2 separate regions of the Homo sapiens genome follow, and region 1 is linked to region 2. A link means that fine-mapping ties the variant in region 2 to the expression of a gene that starts in the linked region. Tissue or cell type: thyroid. Region 2 holds a variant in brackets; the other region holds the start of a gene. All regions are shown on one strand. Distances are from middle to middle. Region 1 holds the start of USP48 (ubiquitin specific peptidase 48). Region 2 has its middle 8.7 kb from the start of LDLRAD2.

Region 1 (8,287 bases), 22 kb after region 2:
AGATATACCGGTCAGGTCAACATCATCAAGCTGTAGCAAGTCCTCATTCTGTCCAAGGCGTTTGAACCAGAGTGACTCTATCTTGAATGGGGGCTGGGTAAAATAAGGCTGAGACCTACTGGGCTGCATTCCCAGGAGGTGAAGACATTTTTTTTGCCTGAGTTTCCCACCGTCGCCTGGGATGGAGTGCAATGCCACGATCTTGGCTCACTGTAACCTCCGCCTCCTGTTCAAGCAATTGTCCTGCCTCAGCCTCCTGAGTAGCTGGGATTACAGGTGCCCGCCACCATGCCTGGCTAATTTTTGTATTTTTAGTAGACCCAGGGTTTCACTATGTTGGCCAGGCTCATCTCGAACTCCTGACCTCGTGATCCGCCCACCTTGGCCTCCTAAAGTGCTGGGATTACAGGCATGAGCCACCATGCCTGGCCTAAGGCATTCTTAGACACAGGATGAGATAGGAGGTCTACACAAGATACAGGTCATAAAGACATTGCTGAGAAAACAGAATGCAGTAAAGAAGCTGGTTAAAACCCACCAAAACCAAGATGGCCATGAGACTGACCTCTGGTCGTCCTCACTGCTTATTATATGCTAATTATTATACGCTAATTATTATACATTAGCATGCTAAAAGACATGCCCACCAGTGCATGACAGGTTACAAATGCCATGGCAAAGTCAGGAAGTTACCCTATATGGTCTAAAAAGGGGAGGAGGCCAGGCGCGGTAGCTCACACCTGTAATCCCAGCACTTTGAGAGGCCGAGGTGGGCGGATCACCTGAAGTCCGGAGTTCGAGACCAGCCTGACCAACATAGTGAAACCCCGTCTCTACTAAAAAATACAAAAAAATTAGGCGGGCGTGGTGGCAAAAGCCTGTAATCCTAGCTACTTGGGAGGTTGAGGCAGGAGAATCGCTTGAACCCAGGAGGCGGAGGTTGCAGTGAGCCCAGACCACACCATTGCACTCCAGCCTGGGCAACAAGAGCAAAACTCCGTCTCAGGAAAAAAAAAAGTCTTCTCTGCCTCACTATACAAAATGCAAATCTCCATTATAGCACTCAACAGCTGTATATCTTCAGTGGGTACTTTGAATAAAGGTCTTCCTTTTTTTGTTTTTTTTTTTGTTGTTATTGTTGTTTTATTGTTGTTGTTATTGTTGTTTTGTTTTGTTTTTGTTTTTTTTTTGGAGACAGAGTCTCGCTCAGTCGCCCAGGCCGGAGGGCAGTGGCGCGATCTCCGCTCACTGTAAGCTCCGCCTCCTGGGTTCCCGCCCTTCTCCTGCCTCAGCCTCCAGAGTAGCTGGGACTACAGGCGCCCGCCACTACGCCCGGCTATTTTTTTTGTATTTTTAGTAGAGAGGGGGTTTCACCGTGTTAGCCAGGATGGTCTCGATCTCCTGATCTCGTGATCCGCCCGCCTTGGCCTCCCAAAGTGCTGGGATTACAGGCGTGAGCCACCGCGCCCGGCGGCAAGGTCTTCCTTTCAAGCCATAACTCTCACCTGTCCCTGTCTCAGAAATTGTGGCCCTCTCACGCCAAGCTTTTCTCTTCTGTGCCTTTGCTCCTTGTGGTTTCTTTTTTTCTGGAATGGTGTCTTTCTTCTATCCTGGATAAGTCCAACTCACCCGTTAAAAGCGGGCTTCGGAATTACTTCTGGGAAGCCTTTTCTCAAGTACCCCGAAGCCTCCCAAGACTGGGATGGGGATCTTTGTATTTCTACCGCTCACTCCCTAACCCACTTCCAAGGGCAGGGACCACATCTTACTTTCTTCTGCCTTCAGCGAATTTTTTTGTTTTTTTTGAGACGGAGTTTTACTCTTGTTGCCCAGGCTGGAGTGCAATGGCGTTATCTCGGCTAACCACAACCTCCGCCTCCCGGGTTCAAGCGATTCTCCTGCCTCTGCCTCCCGACTAGCTGGGATTACAGGCATGCGCGACCGCGCCTTGCTAATTTTGTATTTTTAGTAGAGACGGGGTTTCTCCATTTTGGTCAGGCTGGCCTCGAACTCCTGACCTCAGGTGATCCGCCCACCTCGGCCTCCCAAAGTGCTGGGATTGGATCCTTGAGCCACGGTGCTCGGCCCAGTGAATGTTTATCTAAAGAATTCAGCCTAAGGTTTTCCAGCAGGCAAGCAGCTGAGTCAGAAGTTAGCGCTTAGATTCTGGCAGAGCTCTAATTCAAATTCAAAATTCTTAAATATCCTCACTTTAGTAGAGTTCTTTACAGTTTGCAAAACAATTCTCATAAAGCTACTCTTTATGTCCTGGGGCAGGAGTCGCAGAAAGGAAATGTTTTAAACCAGGAGCTAGAGAGGAACTAGAAAATCCTGGCATAGAGGTAACAGTCTTGAGAAGGGAGCCAACAGCAAACATGACCTTGCGCACCAGAGAAACTCCACCCTGGCACCTCGGACCCCCGCCCGCACAGTCTGCGGCGCACTGAGCACTCCCACCTCGAAGACTACAAATCCCAGCATGCCTCACAGTCAGTGGCAGGACGCAGGGCATGCCGGGACACGTAGTCCCACCCTAGCACGGGAAAAGGCCGGAAGGTCCCATGACGTCAGGAGGGCTCGGGAAAGGGGTTCGGAACCGGTCTAGGCTCAAGTTAAATCTCCCTCTAAAGAGCCAACACTGGTTTCTTTGGCGACTCGGTTTCTACTCTAAACAGGTCCCGCTCCACAGTCTGGGCGGGCCTGTGTGTGCGTTGAGTAGCCTCTAGCGTGAAAACTTCATGGTTAAAAGGGAAGTACCGGAGGCAAGAAATAGCTTTCGAGGCACTGGTTTGTTAGAGTAGTGGTACGTAGTGCGCCGCCCTGAACGGGGGCTGAGACGCTGCTTTTCCAGAAGTGCCAGTGAGGACGTGGCAAGACCGCCTCGGACGTACGCTTCCTCTACCTCAGCCCGTCGGGTTAGGGGCGCGGGAGGCGCAGAGGCTGCTGGGAACGCGCATGCGCTCAGCGCGGCGGGGAGTCCACCTTTAACGTCCGCGGGCGCGGGGTGTGTCGGGTGTCGACGGCGGCGCTTTGCGGCCGGTCGTGCGGGTCGGGCGCGGGCGGGCGCGGCGGCAGTGGCGCGCACAGGTGATTGACTGGCCAGCTGCCTGAAGGAGCGCCAGGTCCTCCTTGCTGGCAGGTGGCGAAGCCCATTGGGGCGGCGGTGCAGACCGCGGCGGCGGCTGCGGCGGTCTGGCTCGGGAGGCGTTCCTGGGGCCAAGGCCATGGCCCCGCGGCTGCAGCTGGAGAAGGCGGCCTGGCGCTGGGCGGAGACGGTGCGGCCCGAGGAGGTGTCGCAGGAGCACATCGAGACCGCTTACCGCATCTGGCTGGAGCCCTGCATTCGCGGCGTGTGCAGGTGAGGCCCGCGCACCGCGCCTCGCGGGCTCCTCGCGCCGGACCTTGGAAAGCCCGGGCGGGGTAGGGGAAAGGAAGACGGCAGCCCTTTGCGTGCATTTGGGAGGCGCGGAGCCGAGCGAGGTGGAGTTTCCCCCTTTGCGCCGTCTGCGCGACCTGGGAAACGCAGGCTTCCCGGGCTGTGCGCGGAGGTGATGCTGGCCAAAGCACTTTAGGAAGGTTTGGGTTCCCATCCAGAAGATGGCGGTGGAGATGAAGGCAGGAGCTGAGAGCTTAGCAAGCGTTGATGGTTGGGGTATCTTGGCCACAGCACGGCTCTTTCGTTTGTAAAAAGGAACTTTTTGGAAGTGAGCTTCATCACAGTGTATCTTGTTGGTGTTGACACCGAAGGCCTGATCATCTTAGTATTATTTTTGTAGAGGGCAGCTTTAGAAAAAACTGTGGTCAGCCTACGTCATCGATACCCTGCACCCCCGTTGGCCTTCCCTCACTCGTTAATCTAGTATTTTTTTTAAGCCTTTCTTTGGTCGTTCTGGTTCGACACCAGTTTACCGAGTACCAAGTTTAAGCTGTGATAGTGCTGTCCTTCACGTCTGCGCCGCCCTTGAACTTTACCTTTCCTTAACCCCCTCATATAGATTGAATCCTTAGGCTTTGCTCCCGTTTATTCCCTTTTTTCCACCTTGTAACGCGGGAACTATAGTTTTTGTTTCAGAATGTTGTTGAAATTGACTTGGCCAAGCCGGGCATGCTCAGTAGCCGTCTTTCGGCAGGCATTTAGGAAATGCTTTCTGGAGTTTTTACATTCCGCTGGGGGATCCGGAAGGAATGGAAGTCATGGTCTCTGGCTTTGGAGCTTAAAGTCTAGTATGAGAAGTGAAATAAGTTAGGGAGTTTCTATAAAGCAAACGAATAAGTCCAAGCTCTGGGCGTCTGTCTCACAAGGAGGGTAAATCTGACTTTAACAGTAAGTTCTGGAATGTTTGAAGTCTGTGTATAATAGAAATAATCAAGCTTCAGTCAGTTTCTCAACGTAATTAGTTTCCAGACTAACCAAATAATGTAAACTACTAATAGTTCTGGTGGTTTTTGAGACAGGGTCTCACTCTGTCACACAGGCTGGAGTGCAGTGTCACGAGCTCGGCTCACTGCAACCTCCGTTTCCCAGGCTCAAGCGATCCTCCCACCTCGGCCTCCGGAGTAGCTGGGATTAGAGGCACGGGCCACCACGCCCGACTCAGTTTTGTATTTTTAGTGGAGACGGGTTTTCGCCATGTTGGCCAGGCTGGTCTCGAGCTCTGGGCTCAAGCGATCTGCCCACCTCTTCTGGGATTACAGGCGTGAGCCACCATGCTGGGCCAATTTCTGATATTTATTTATTTATTGAGACGGTGTTTCGCTCTTATTGCCCAGGCTAGAGTGCAATGGCGTGATCTCGGCTCACTGCAACCTCTGCCTCCTTGGTTCAAGCGATTCTCCTGCCTCAGCCTCCTGAATAGCTGGGATTACAGGCATGCACCATCATGCCCGGCTAATTTTTTTTTATTATTTTTATTTTTTGTATTTTTAGTAGAGACAGGGTTTCTCCATGTTGGTCAGGCTGGTCTCGAACTCCTGACCTCAGATAATTTGACCGCCTTGGCCTCCCAAAGTGCTGGCATTACAGGCGTGAGCCACCGCCCGCCAGGCCGATACTTTTTTTTTTTTCGAGACAGCGTCGTGAGACGCTGGATAAATTTAAAAAAATAAATTTTTAAAATAAAAATTTTAAAAGAAAAAAGAATAGGCCGGGTGCGGTGGCTCATGCCTGTAATCCCAGCACTTTGGGAGGCCGAGATGGGCGGATCACGAGGTCAGGAGTTCGAGACCAGCCTGGCCAGCATGGTGAAACCCCGTCTCTACTAAAAATACAAAAATTAGCCGGGGGTGGTGGCGGGCGCCTGTAATCCCAGCTACTGGGGTGGCTGAGGCAGGAGAACCCTGGAACCCGGGAGGTGGAGGTTGCGGTGAGCCGAGATCACGCCACTGCACTCCAGCTTGGGCAACAGGGCGAGACTCAGTCTCAAAAAAAAAAAAAAAAAAAAAATTATCTTATCTTGGCTCTGTATGCCCTGTATGTTCCGCCTCTAAATTTCCCTATTCTGGACATTTCATATAAATGGAATCCTAAAATACGTGGACTTTTGTGACTGATTTCCTTTACTTATGTATTTAAGGGTCATCCATGTTGTAGCATGTTTCAGCACTTCATTTCATTAAAAAAATACCTGGGAAATACATATGACAGTGTTTACCATTTTAAAGTGCACAATTCGGTGGGTTTCAGTACCTTTATAGTGTTGTACAACCATCACCACTGTCTGGTTCCAGAACTTTTCATTATCCTAAAAGGAAACTGAGCATCTGTTAGTCACTTCCCATTTTCCCCCCTCGCCCAGCCCCTGGCAACTGCTAATCTACTTTCTGTCTCTGGATTTCTCTATTAATATTTCATAGCAATGGAATTATACAGTACGTGGCCATTTGTGTCTGGTTTCACTTAACGTAATGTTTCCAAGGGTTATCCCTGCTGCGCATGTGTCACTACTTTATTCCTTACGGCTGAGTAGTATTCCATTTTATGGATAATACCACATTTTATATATCTATTCATCAGTTGAGGGACATTTTGATTATTTCCACCTTTTGCTTATTTTGAGTAGTACTTCTCTGAACATTTGCATACAAGTTTTGGTCTGAACATCTGATTTCAGTTCTTTACCTGGGAGTGGAATTACTGGGTCATACACAGTCAATTCTGTGTTTAACTTAACCGAACCGCGAAACTTCCACAGTGGTTGTACCGATTTACATTCCCACCAGTGATGTATGAGGGTTCAAATGCTTCATCATCCTCATAAACAGGTACTATTTTCTGTTTTTCTGGTTAGGCCCTCCTACTTGGGTGTGAAGTGATGCATCTTTGTAGTTTTGATTTGCATTTTCCTAGTGACTAATGAGTTCAGCGTCTTTTCATGTGCTCGTTGCCTCTTTTCCTTTTATTGATCAATAATATGCCATCATATCTCTGTATCTACCACATTTTTAATTTGCATTCATCTGCTGATAGACATTTGGGTCATTTCTACTTTTTGGCTATTATAATGTTGCTATGAACATTAGTGTAGTAGTTTTTGTGTGGGCATTTATTTTTATTTCTCTTGGTTATAGAGCAAGAAGTGGGATTGTTGGGTTGTGTGGTAACTTTTAACTTTTTATTATTATTATTATTTTTTTTTTGAGACGGAGTCTCTCTGTGTTGCCCAGGCTGGAGTGCAGTGGCGCCATCTCGGCTCACTGCAACCTCTGCCTCCTAGGTTCAAGCGATTCTTGTGCCTCAGCCTCTGAGTCACTGGGATTACAGACGCCCACCACCACACCCGGCTAATTTTTTGTATTTTTTAGTAGAGACTGGGTTTCGCCAAGTTGGCCAGGCTGGTCTTGAACTCCTGACCTCAGGTGATCCACCTACCTCGGCCTCCCAAAGTGCTGGGATTACAGGCTTGAGCCACCGCACCCAGCTCTTTTAACTTTTATTTATTTATTTATTTTTAATGAGGTCTCACTCTGTAACACAGACTGTATTGCAGTGCAATCATGGCTCACTGCAGCCTTGAACTCCTGGGCTCAAGCAATCCTCCCGCCTCAGCCTCCTGCCACTACAGGCACATGCCACAACACGAGGCTAATTAAACAAAATTTTTTTGCTGGGCGTGGTGGCTCACGCCTGTAACCTCAGCACTGTGGGAGGCCAAGGCTGGCGGATCACGAGGTCAGGAGATCGAGACCATCCTGGCTAACGTGGTGAAACTCCGTCTCTACTAAAAATACAAAAAATTAGCCGGGCATGGTGGCGGATGCCTGTAGTCCCAGCTACTCGGGAGGCTGGGGCAGGAGAATGGCATAAACCCGGGAGGCAAAGGCAGGAGAATGGCACGAACCCGGGAGGCAGAGCTTGCAGTGAGCTGAGATACGCCACTGCACTCCAGCCTGGGTGACAGAACGAGACTCCGTCTCCAAAAAAAAAAAAAAATTTGTGGAAATGGAGTCCCACTTTGGTGCCCAAGCTGGTCTTGAACTCCTTGCTTCAAGTGATCCTCCTGCCTTGGCCCCCTGAAATGCTTGGATTGCATGAATGAAACTGTTCATGGCCTTTTTTTGGCTTTTTTTTTTTTTTTTTTTTTAAGATGAGGGTCTTGCTATGTTGTGTAGGCTGTCCTTGAACTCCTGGGCTCAATCAATACTCCTGCCCCAGCTTCCCTGGTAGCTGGGACTGTAGGCACGAACCACCATGTCTGTGTTTAATATTTTGAGGAATTGTCAGGTTACTTTCCAGAGTGGCTGCGCTATTTTACATATTCACAAGCAGTATATGAGGATTCCAATTGCTCTATGTCCCTATACTTGTTACTGCCTTTTTTCTTTTAGCCATCCTAGTGGGTGCGAAGTGGTGTCTTATGTTTTGATTTGTGTTTCATTGATGACTAATCACGTTAAACATCTTTTTGTGTACTTATTGGCCATTCATATATCTTTTTTGAGAAATGTCTGTTTAAATCCTTTGCGTGCTTTTAAATTGAGTTGCCTTTTGTTATTGAGTTGTGATCTTTTTTTGGTCTTGTTTTTGTTTTGTTTTTTTTTTTCAGACGGAGTCTCACTCTGTCACCCAGGCTGGAGTGCAGTGATGCCATCTCGGCTCACTGTAACCTCCGCCTCCCAGGTTCAAGCGATTCTCCTGCCTCAGCCTCCCGAGTAGCTGGGACTACAGGCGCACACCGCCACGCCTAGCTAATTTTTTTTTTTTTTTTTTTTTGGTATATTTAGTAGAGACGGGGTTTCACTATGCTGGCCAGGCTGGTCTCAAACTCCTGACCTTGTGATACGCCCACCT
Region 2 (8,308 bases):
CCCAGCCCCAGGAGTACAAGGGCATTGTAAAAGAAATAAAATTTGAAATGCACGAAGTCAGAAATAGTGTGTGGAAAATCCTTCCAAATACACAGCTCACATGAGTAAGATATTTTATAGCAGTTGCTCCAAATTTAACAACAATCATTGAGTTAAATAATCTTACCAACAATGAATTACAAAACTGAAGGAAAAAAATTCCTAAACTATCACTAATAAAAAACTAATTTTGGGCTGGGCACAGTGGCTCACGCCTGTAATCCCAGTACTATGAGAGGCCGAGGCGGGCGGATCACGAGGTCAGGAGATCGAGATCATCCTGGCTAACACGGTGAAACCCTGTCTCCACTAAAAATAAAAAAAATTCTCCAGGTGTGGTGGCGGGCGCCTGTAGTCCCAGCTACTCAGAAGGCTGAGGCAGGAGAATGGCGTGAGCCTGGGAGGCAGAACTTGCAGTGAGCCAAGATCGCGCCACTGCACTCCAGCCTGGGCGACAGAGCGAGACTCCGTCTCAAAAAACAAAAAAAAACAAAAACAAAAACACACAAAAAAACTAATTTTGATCAATCATGGCAGAGGAAAGACTGAATTATCTTTCCAGTCCTGCTATAAAAATATCCTGGCCAGGCGCGGTGGCTAACACCTATAATCCCAGCACTTTGGGAGGCCAAGGCGAGCGGATCACGAGGTCAGGAGTTTGAAACCAGCCTGGCCAACACGATGAAACCCTGTCTCTACTAAAAATACAAAAAAAATATCTGGGTGTGGTGGCAGGTGCCTGTAATCCCAGCAACTCGGGAAGCTGAGGCAGGAGAATCGTTTGAACCCAGGAGACGGAAGCTGCAGTGAGCCGAGATCACGCCATTGCACTCCAGCCTGAGCAACAGGGCAAGACTCGCTCTCAAAAACAAAAACAAAAACAATCCTACTGCCCAGGCACAGTGGTTCATGCTTGTAATCCCAGCACTTTGGGAGGTGGAAGTGGGAGGATCGCTTGAGGCTGGGAGTTCGGGACCAACCTGGGCAACAGAGTGACCAAACCCCATCTCTACAAAAAACATAAAAATTAACCAAGCGTGGTGGTATGCATCTGTAGTCCCAGCTCCTTGGGAGGCTGCAGCAGGAAGGTTGCTTGAGCCCAGGAGCTCAAGGCTGCAGTGAGCTATGATCGTTCCACTGCACTCCACCCTGGGCAACAGAGCAAGACTCCATCTAGCAAAAAAAAAAATAGAGAAAATACCATACAGTTGCTGTCACATAAAGAATCAAAAAGTGTGCAGCCAAAAAAAAAAAGTAAGCAAAAAAGGCCAGGTGCTGAGGCTCACACCTGCAATCTCAGTGCTTTGGGAAGTTGAGGTGGGAGGATTGCTTGCGCCCAGGAGTTTGAGCTCAGTCTGGGTAGCATTGTGAGACCCTGTCTCTATTTAAAAAAAAAAAAAAGTATTATAGAAGAATGTTAAGCAGTTAATAAAAGTTTGTTATTATTTTGGATTTTATTTTTTGTCTTATTTGTCCGTTTTTTACATTTCAAAACTTGTTGGGATTTTTTCTCATTCTAAATAAATATTCACTTTCAAACCAGGTTTTTGTTTTTTTTTTTTTTGAGATGGAATCTCGCTCTGTTGCCCAGGCTGGAGTGTAGTGGCACAATCTCGGCTCACTGCAGCCTCTGCCTCCCAGGTTCAACGAATTTTCCTGTCTCAGCCTCCCAAGTAGCTGGGACTACAGGTGCACATCACCACACCCAGTTAATTTTTGTATTTTTTGTAGAGACGGGGTTTCACCATATTGGCCAGGCTGGTCTCGAACTCCTGACCTCAGGTGATCCACCCGTCTCAGCCTCCCAAAGTGTTGGGATTACAGGCATGAGCCAGCACATCTGGCCTCAAACCTGATTTTGTGTTAATAATTTCATATTTTAAAGAGGGCCCCCAAATTGTTTCTGCTTCAGGACCCACAAAATGTGGCCCTCCAGGACCTCAGAGACTGGTAGGGGCTTCAGATTAAACAAACAAACAAAAAACAAATCAATAAATAAATTGCAACCCTAACTATAACAGGAATGTGACATACCTCAGGAAGTCAGGAGAAGCTTCCCAGAGGAGATTTTTGAGTTGGGCCATGAAGGATGCATATGAGTTTCCGTGCAGAAACTACGCTAAATGCATTCCAAGCAGAGGACCCAGTATGTGTCATGGTCACAGAGGAGCTCATTCTGGGAACAGGTTGGTATGGCTAAACCCTGCTGCACAGAAAAGTGATAGAAACGACAACAATATTAACGACAATAGGCCAAGTGAGCCAAGATCATGCCACTGTACTCCAGCCTGGGCAATAGAGGGAGACTTTGTCTCAAAAACAAAACAAGGCCGGGCGCGGTGGCTCACACCTATAATCCCAGCACTTTGGGAGGCCGAGGCGGGTGGATCACGAGGTCAGGAGTTCAAGACCAGCCTGGCCAAGATGGTGAAACCCCGTCTCTACTAAAAATACAAAAATTAGCCAGGTGTGGTGGTGGTTGCCTTTAATCCCAGCTACTCGGGAGGCTGAGGCAGAGAATTGCTTGAACCCGGGAGGTGGAGGTTGCAGTGAGCTGAGATCACACCACTCTACCCCAACCTGGGCAACAGAGTGAGACTCTGTCTCAAAAACAAAAACAAAAACAATACTAGTAACTTCCTGGCCCCTTGATCAGCCTCTGTGCTGAAATATTCCTACCTTTAATGACTAGGGACAAACACCTCGTACATCCTTTCGTATTTCTAGAGACTACTTCTGTTTTTTTTTTTGGTTTTGTTTTGTTTTGTTTTGTTTTTGAGATGGAGTCTCACTCTGTTAACCAGGCTGTAGTGCAGTGGTGCGATCTTAGCTCACTACAACCTCTGCCTCCCAAGATTGGCTGATCTTCCCACCTCAGCCTCCCAAGTAGCTGGAATTACAGGCATGTGCCACCTCACTCAGCCAGAGACTACTTCTTGAGTGATTACAGCATGCCAAGCACTGGCTTTAAGTTTGTCATATGCTCTATCACACATAATCTTCACAATATGTCTCAATGACCCTGCAAAGAGGGCATTCTTTTGGAAACCTCATTTAAATGATAAGAAATCTGAGGTAAGGGGGTAGAGTCTTCCCCTGAGCCACACTTCCCAGCCGTATGACCCTTAGGCAAGTGACCTGATCGCTCTGTGCCTCAGGTTTTTAATCTACAAAATGGAGACAATACTGAAGTATCTTACTGGGAAGATTAAAATGGAAAAAAATACGTATGCATTCATTTTTCAAATTTTACTAACCTCTGTTTTAAGCACTGAAGAAATTTCAGGGAACAAAATAAACAAAATTTCTGGGCCAGACATTGCGGCTCATGTCTATAATCCCAGCACTTTGGAAGGGCAAGGTAGGAGGACTGCTTAAACTCAGAAGTTCAAGGCTGCAGTGAGCTATGATTGTGCCACTGAACTCCAGCCTGAGTGACAGAGCGAGACCTTGAAAAAA[AT/T]AAAATAAAATTTTTCTAATGTTTTAGAACTTACATTCCAGTGGAGGATAAATGAGTAAGATGTTTGATATATGGAATAGTAATAAATACAAAGGAGAAAATACACAAAGCATGGTTGGCAGGCATGTCAGAGGGGTGTTGACATTTTGATAGGATAGCCAGGGAATGTCACACTGAGAGGGGCCTTTTGAGTAGAGACCAGAAAGAAGCCAGGGGACCAGTCATGCAGTTATTTGGAGAAAGAACATTCTAGGCAGAGGCAATAGCAAGTGCAAAGGCCCTGAGGCAGGAATGTGCCTGGCACAAGCAATACATGCGGAACGAAGGCAGAGATGCAAAGAGTGATAAAAGATGAGTCAGATAATGTCAAGCCCTAGAGGTCATTGTAAAGACTTTGGCTTTTTCCGCTGGGCGCGAGGGCTCATGCTTGTAATCCCAGCACTTTGGGAGGCCAAGGCGGGTGGATCACGAGGTCAGGAGATCGAGACCATCCTGGCTAACATGGTGAAACCCCGTCTCTACTAAAAAAATACTAAAAATTAGCCAGGCATGGTGGCGGGCACCTGTAGTTCCAGCTACTTGGGAGGCTGAGGCAGGAGAATGGCGTGAACCTGGGAGGCGGAGCTTGCACTGAGCCGAGATCGCGCCACTGCACTCAAGCCTGGGCAACAGAGCAAGACTCCGTCTCAAAAAAAGAAAAAAAAGATTGCTTTCATGTATTGGCATATATACGTGTGTGTGTGTGTGTGTGTGTGTGTGTGTGTGTGTGTGTGTGTGTGTATTTTTTTTTTTTTAGACAGAGTCTTACTCTGCTGCCCGGGCTGGAGTGCAGTGGCACGATCTCGGCTCACTGCAACCTCCACCTCCCAGGTTCAAGCAATTCTCCCTCAGGCTCCCAAGTAGCTGGGATTACAATCATGCACCACAATGCCCAGCTAATTTTTTTTTTGTATTTTTAGTAGAGACGGAGTTTCACCATGTTGGTCAGCTCTTTATATGGTTTTTGAGACAGGGTCTTGCTCTGTTGCCCAGGCTACATTGCTGTGACGCGATTACAGCTCACTGCAGCCTCTACTTCCTGGGTTCAGGTGATCCTCCCACCTCAGCCTCTCAAGTAACTGGGACAACAGGCATGCACCACCATACCCGGCTAATTTTTTTGTATTTTTTGTAGAGATGGGGTTTCGCCACGTTGCCCAGGCTGGCCTTGAACTCCTAGGCTCAAGCGATCCTCCCAGTTTGGCCTCCCAAAGTGCTGGGATTATAGGCTTTAGGCACCTTGCCCGGACGGCTAATTTAAGCTGATTTATTCTTCACAGTAGTGCCATAAAGTGGGTACTCTTATCATCTCCATTTTGCAGAGGAAGAAGCTGAGGCACAAAGATGTTAAATGCAGAAATATTATGTAAGTAGGAAATGGGGAAGCAACAGTGTTCCAGGCAGAAGGAGAATCACACACAAAGCCTAGAAGGCCGGGGACAGCCTGCCTTTGCTGGCTTTTATGCAGCAACCGGAGAAAGTACCTTCTTCTGGCTACACTGGGCTCATATCCCACACACGCCAATCAAGTGTTAAGCTTCAGCCACAGTGGAAGGGACACAGCCAGGATTTGAACTCAGAGGCCATCTCACTTCCAAATCCATGACAACCATGTCAAGTAAGTTTTCTCAATATTGAGTCACGTGGGGAGAGAGTTCTTCCCTTTCTGTTACCCATATTTTTCTGGTTTTTTGGGTTTTTTGAGACAGAGTCTCACTCTGTCACCCAGGCTGGAGTGCAGTGGCATGATCTTGGCTCACTGCAGCCTCCGCCTCCCAGGTTCAAGCAATTCTGCCTCCTCCGCCTCCCGAGTAGCTGCGATTGCAGGCGTGCGCCACCATGCCCTGCTATTTTTGTGTTTTTAGTAGAGATGGGGTTTCACCATGTTGGCCAGGCTGGTCTCAAACTCCTGGCTTCAAATGATCCGCCAGTCTTGGCCTCCCAAAGTGCTGGGATTACAGGTGTATGGCCACTACATGACGGCCATATACTGACAGAGGTTGTTAATCCCCTCACAATACATAATTCAAGGATGAAATAATGAGATCACAGACATTTTTACTAGATTAGAAAAAGAAGGCATCATTAGGCAAACCTACGTCCCTACAAGTCACTAGTGTGGCCAGAAGGAAAATGAAAATTGACAACAGACAACAAAAAATACAAATATAACGTGCAAAATAAAATAAATGTACAAAAAATGTAGTGAGCTCTTATCTAACACATTAGAAATCACAGAAAGGGGTCAGGTGCTGTAGCTTATGCACATAATCCCAGCACTTTGGGAGGCCAAGGCAGGAGGATCACTTGAGTTCCAGTTTGAGACCAGTCTAGGCAACATGGTGAGACCCTGTCTCTACCAAAAAGGCTGGGTGCGGTGGCTCACGCCTGTAATCCCAGCACTTTGGGAGGCCGAGGCGGGCGGATCACCTGAGGTCAGGAGTTCGAGACAGGCCTGACCAACACGGTGAAACTCCGTCTCTACTAAAAATACACAAATTAGCCAGGCATGGTGGCACACGCCTGTAATCCTAGCTACTTGGGAGGCTGAGGCAGGAGAATCTCTTGAACCCAAGAGGCAGAGGTTGCAATGAGTCAAGATCGCAGCACTGCACTCCAGCCTGGGTGACAGATCGAGACTCTGTCTCAAGAAAAGAAAAAGAAAAAGCTTCTACAATTAATGAGATTATTTGGCTATTAGAGAAAACTTATACTAAGCTGAATATTGTTTTACAATGTATCAAGTCACCAGGAAAAAAATCCACAAATTTCCTTGAGGATCAGATATCCTTCAATGAACTGAATTGGGTAGCAAGACATTTTACCCTGAGCACCTATACTAATAATGTAAACAAAGATTTCAATGACTCATGAACATGCTGATTGGTCACTCTGAGTCAGATTTTGAAGGTTAGGCATGGGATCATTTCTTTGTCAGTCTACTGGACACAGAAATTTCTGATACAGAAAACTAGCCCCTGGCCATGTGTGGTGGCTCACACCTGTAATCCCAGCATTTTGGGAGGGCGAGGCAGGCGGATCACTTGAGGTCAAGAGTTCGACAACGGCCTGGCCAACATGGTGAAACGCCGTCTCTATTAAAGATACAAAAATTAGCTGGGCATGGTGGCAGTTGCCTGTAATCCAAGCTACTTAGGAGGCTGAGGCAGGAGAATCACTTGAACCGGGGAGGTGGAGGTTGCAGTGAGCCAAGACCACACCATTGCACTCCAGCCTGGGCAATAAGAGCAGAAATAAATAAATAAATAAATAAATAAAACTAGCCCCACAGAGAAAAAGGGCACTGGTGACATCCTTGCATTACAGGATGCAGAGGAACTATTGGTAGCCCCAAAATAAGAACAAAGCTACTCATCCTAACATGAGCTAGACTCAGTTCTGATCAGACAAAGGGAGTAGCCCAAGTATTACCCACCTAGAATGGAAATGGAACATAATGGAAAGGACAATGCAGGGTCCCAATGATACATCAAAGGTGCATGAGAGGCCAGGTGCGATGGCTCAGTTCTGTAATCCCAGCACTTTGAGATACTGAGGTGGGTGGATTGCTTGAACTCAGGAGTTTGAGACTAGCCTGGGCAACGTGGTGAAAACTCATCTCTACAAAAAAAGAAAAAAATTAGTCCAGGCGCAGTGGCTCACGCTTGTAATTCTAGCACTTTGGGAGGCCGAAGTGGGCAGATCACGAGGTCAGGAGATCGAGACCATCCTGGCTAACACGGTGAAACCCTATCTCTACTAAAAATACAAAAAATTAGCCGGGCGTGGTGGCAGACGCCTGTAGTCCCAGCTATTCAGGAGGCTGAGGCAGGAGAATGGCGTGAACCTGGGAGGCGGAGCTGGTAGGGAGCCGAGATCACACCACTGCACTCCAGTCTGGGCAACAGAGCGAGACTCCGTCTGAAAAAAGAAAAAAGAAAAAAATTAGCCAGGTGTGGTGGCATGCACCTGTAGTCCTAGCTACTCAAGAGGCTGAGGTGGGAGGATTGCTTGAGCCTGGGAGGCAGAGGTTGCAGTGAGCCGAGATTGCGCCATTGCACTTACACCTGGGGGACAGAGCCAGCAGACCCTGTCTCAAAAAAAAAAAAAAAAAAAAAGTGCATGAGGAGGTAGTGTCTTAGCTGTTGCTAGACTTGCTCTGTGAGCAGAGAGAATAGGAAACACCTTGACCACCACCCCTAGAGACAGCAGCTTCCTCCTGTCTGAGCTGGCACTGGGGCACAGGTGATGTGCGTGGTTCGTGGATGTGAATGCCTCACTCATACCACAGGAATCAAGCAGAAAGCAGCAGCAGCCCTAAATTCATCACAGGTGACACCCTGGCAGGTGGAGGGCCAGAAAAGTCATCCCAGTATAATGAATTACAATCAATGAGGCTGGTCACGGTGGCTCACACGTGTAATCCCAGCACTTTGGGAGGCAGAGGTGGGCAGATCACCTGAGGTCAGGAGTTCAAGACCCGCCTGGCCAACAAGGTGAAACCACTTCTCTACTAAAAATACAAAAATTAGATGGGTGTAGTGGCGGGCACCTGTAATCCCAGCTACTCAGGAGGCCAAGGCAGGAAAATCGCCTGAGCCTGGGAGGCAGAGGTTGCAATGAGCCGAGATCATGCCACTGCACTCCAGCCTGAGCAACAGAGGGAGACTCCGTCTCAAAAAAATATATTAAAAAAAAAAACAATGCAATTGCCGATAAGTCATAACTTACAGAAGGAACATCCCAGTCTGATCCATGGGTGGTAGCTAA

Evidence for each region. PIP is the estimated chance that this variant, and not a neighbour inherited with it, causes the effect.
Region 1: it holds the start of USP48, and the variant in region 2 is fine-mapped to the expression of USP48 in thyroid (GTEx, PIP above 0.99).

The regions. Positions count from the first base shown.
Region 1 is chr1:21,777,895-21,786,181 of GRCh38, reverse strand. USP48 (ubiquitin specific peptidase 48) reads left to right here and starts at 3,033. Exons shown (of 27, transcript NM_032236.8): 1 at 3,033-3,358. The coding sequence starts at 3,225. RefSeq lists silencers at 348-522, 2,910-3,269 and enhancers at 2,650-2,699, 2,445-3,215, 3,640-3,739, 3,216-3,987, 4,300-4,349.
Region 2 is chr1:21,799,404-21,807,711 of GRCh38, reverse strand. No RefSeq gene overlaps it. Among named protein-coding and RNA genes, the nearest start is that of LDLRAD2, 8.7 kb to the left of the region's middle. The variant AT/T (reference allele first, on the strand shown) is at 3,499.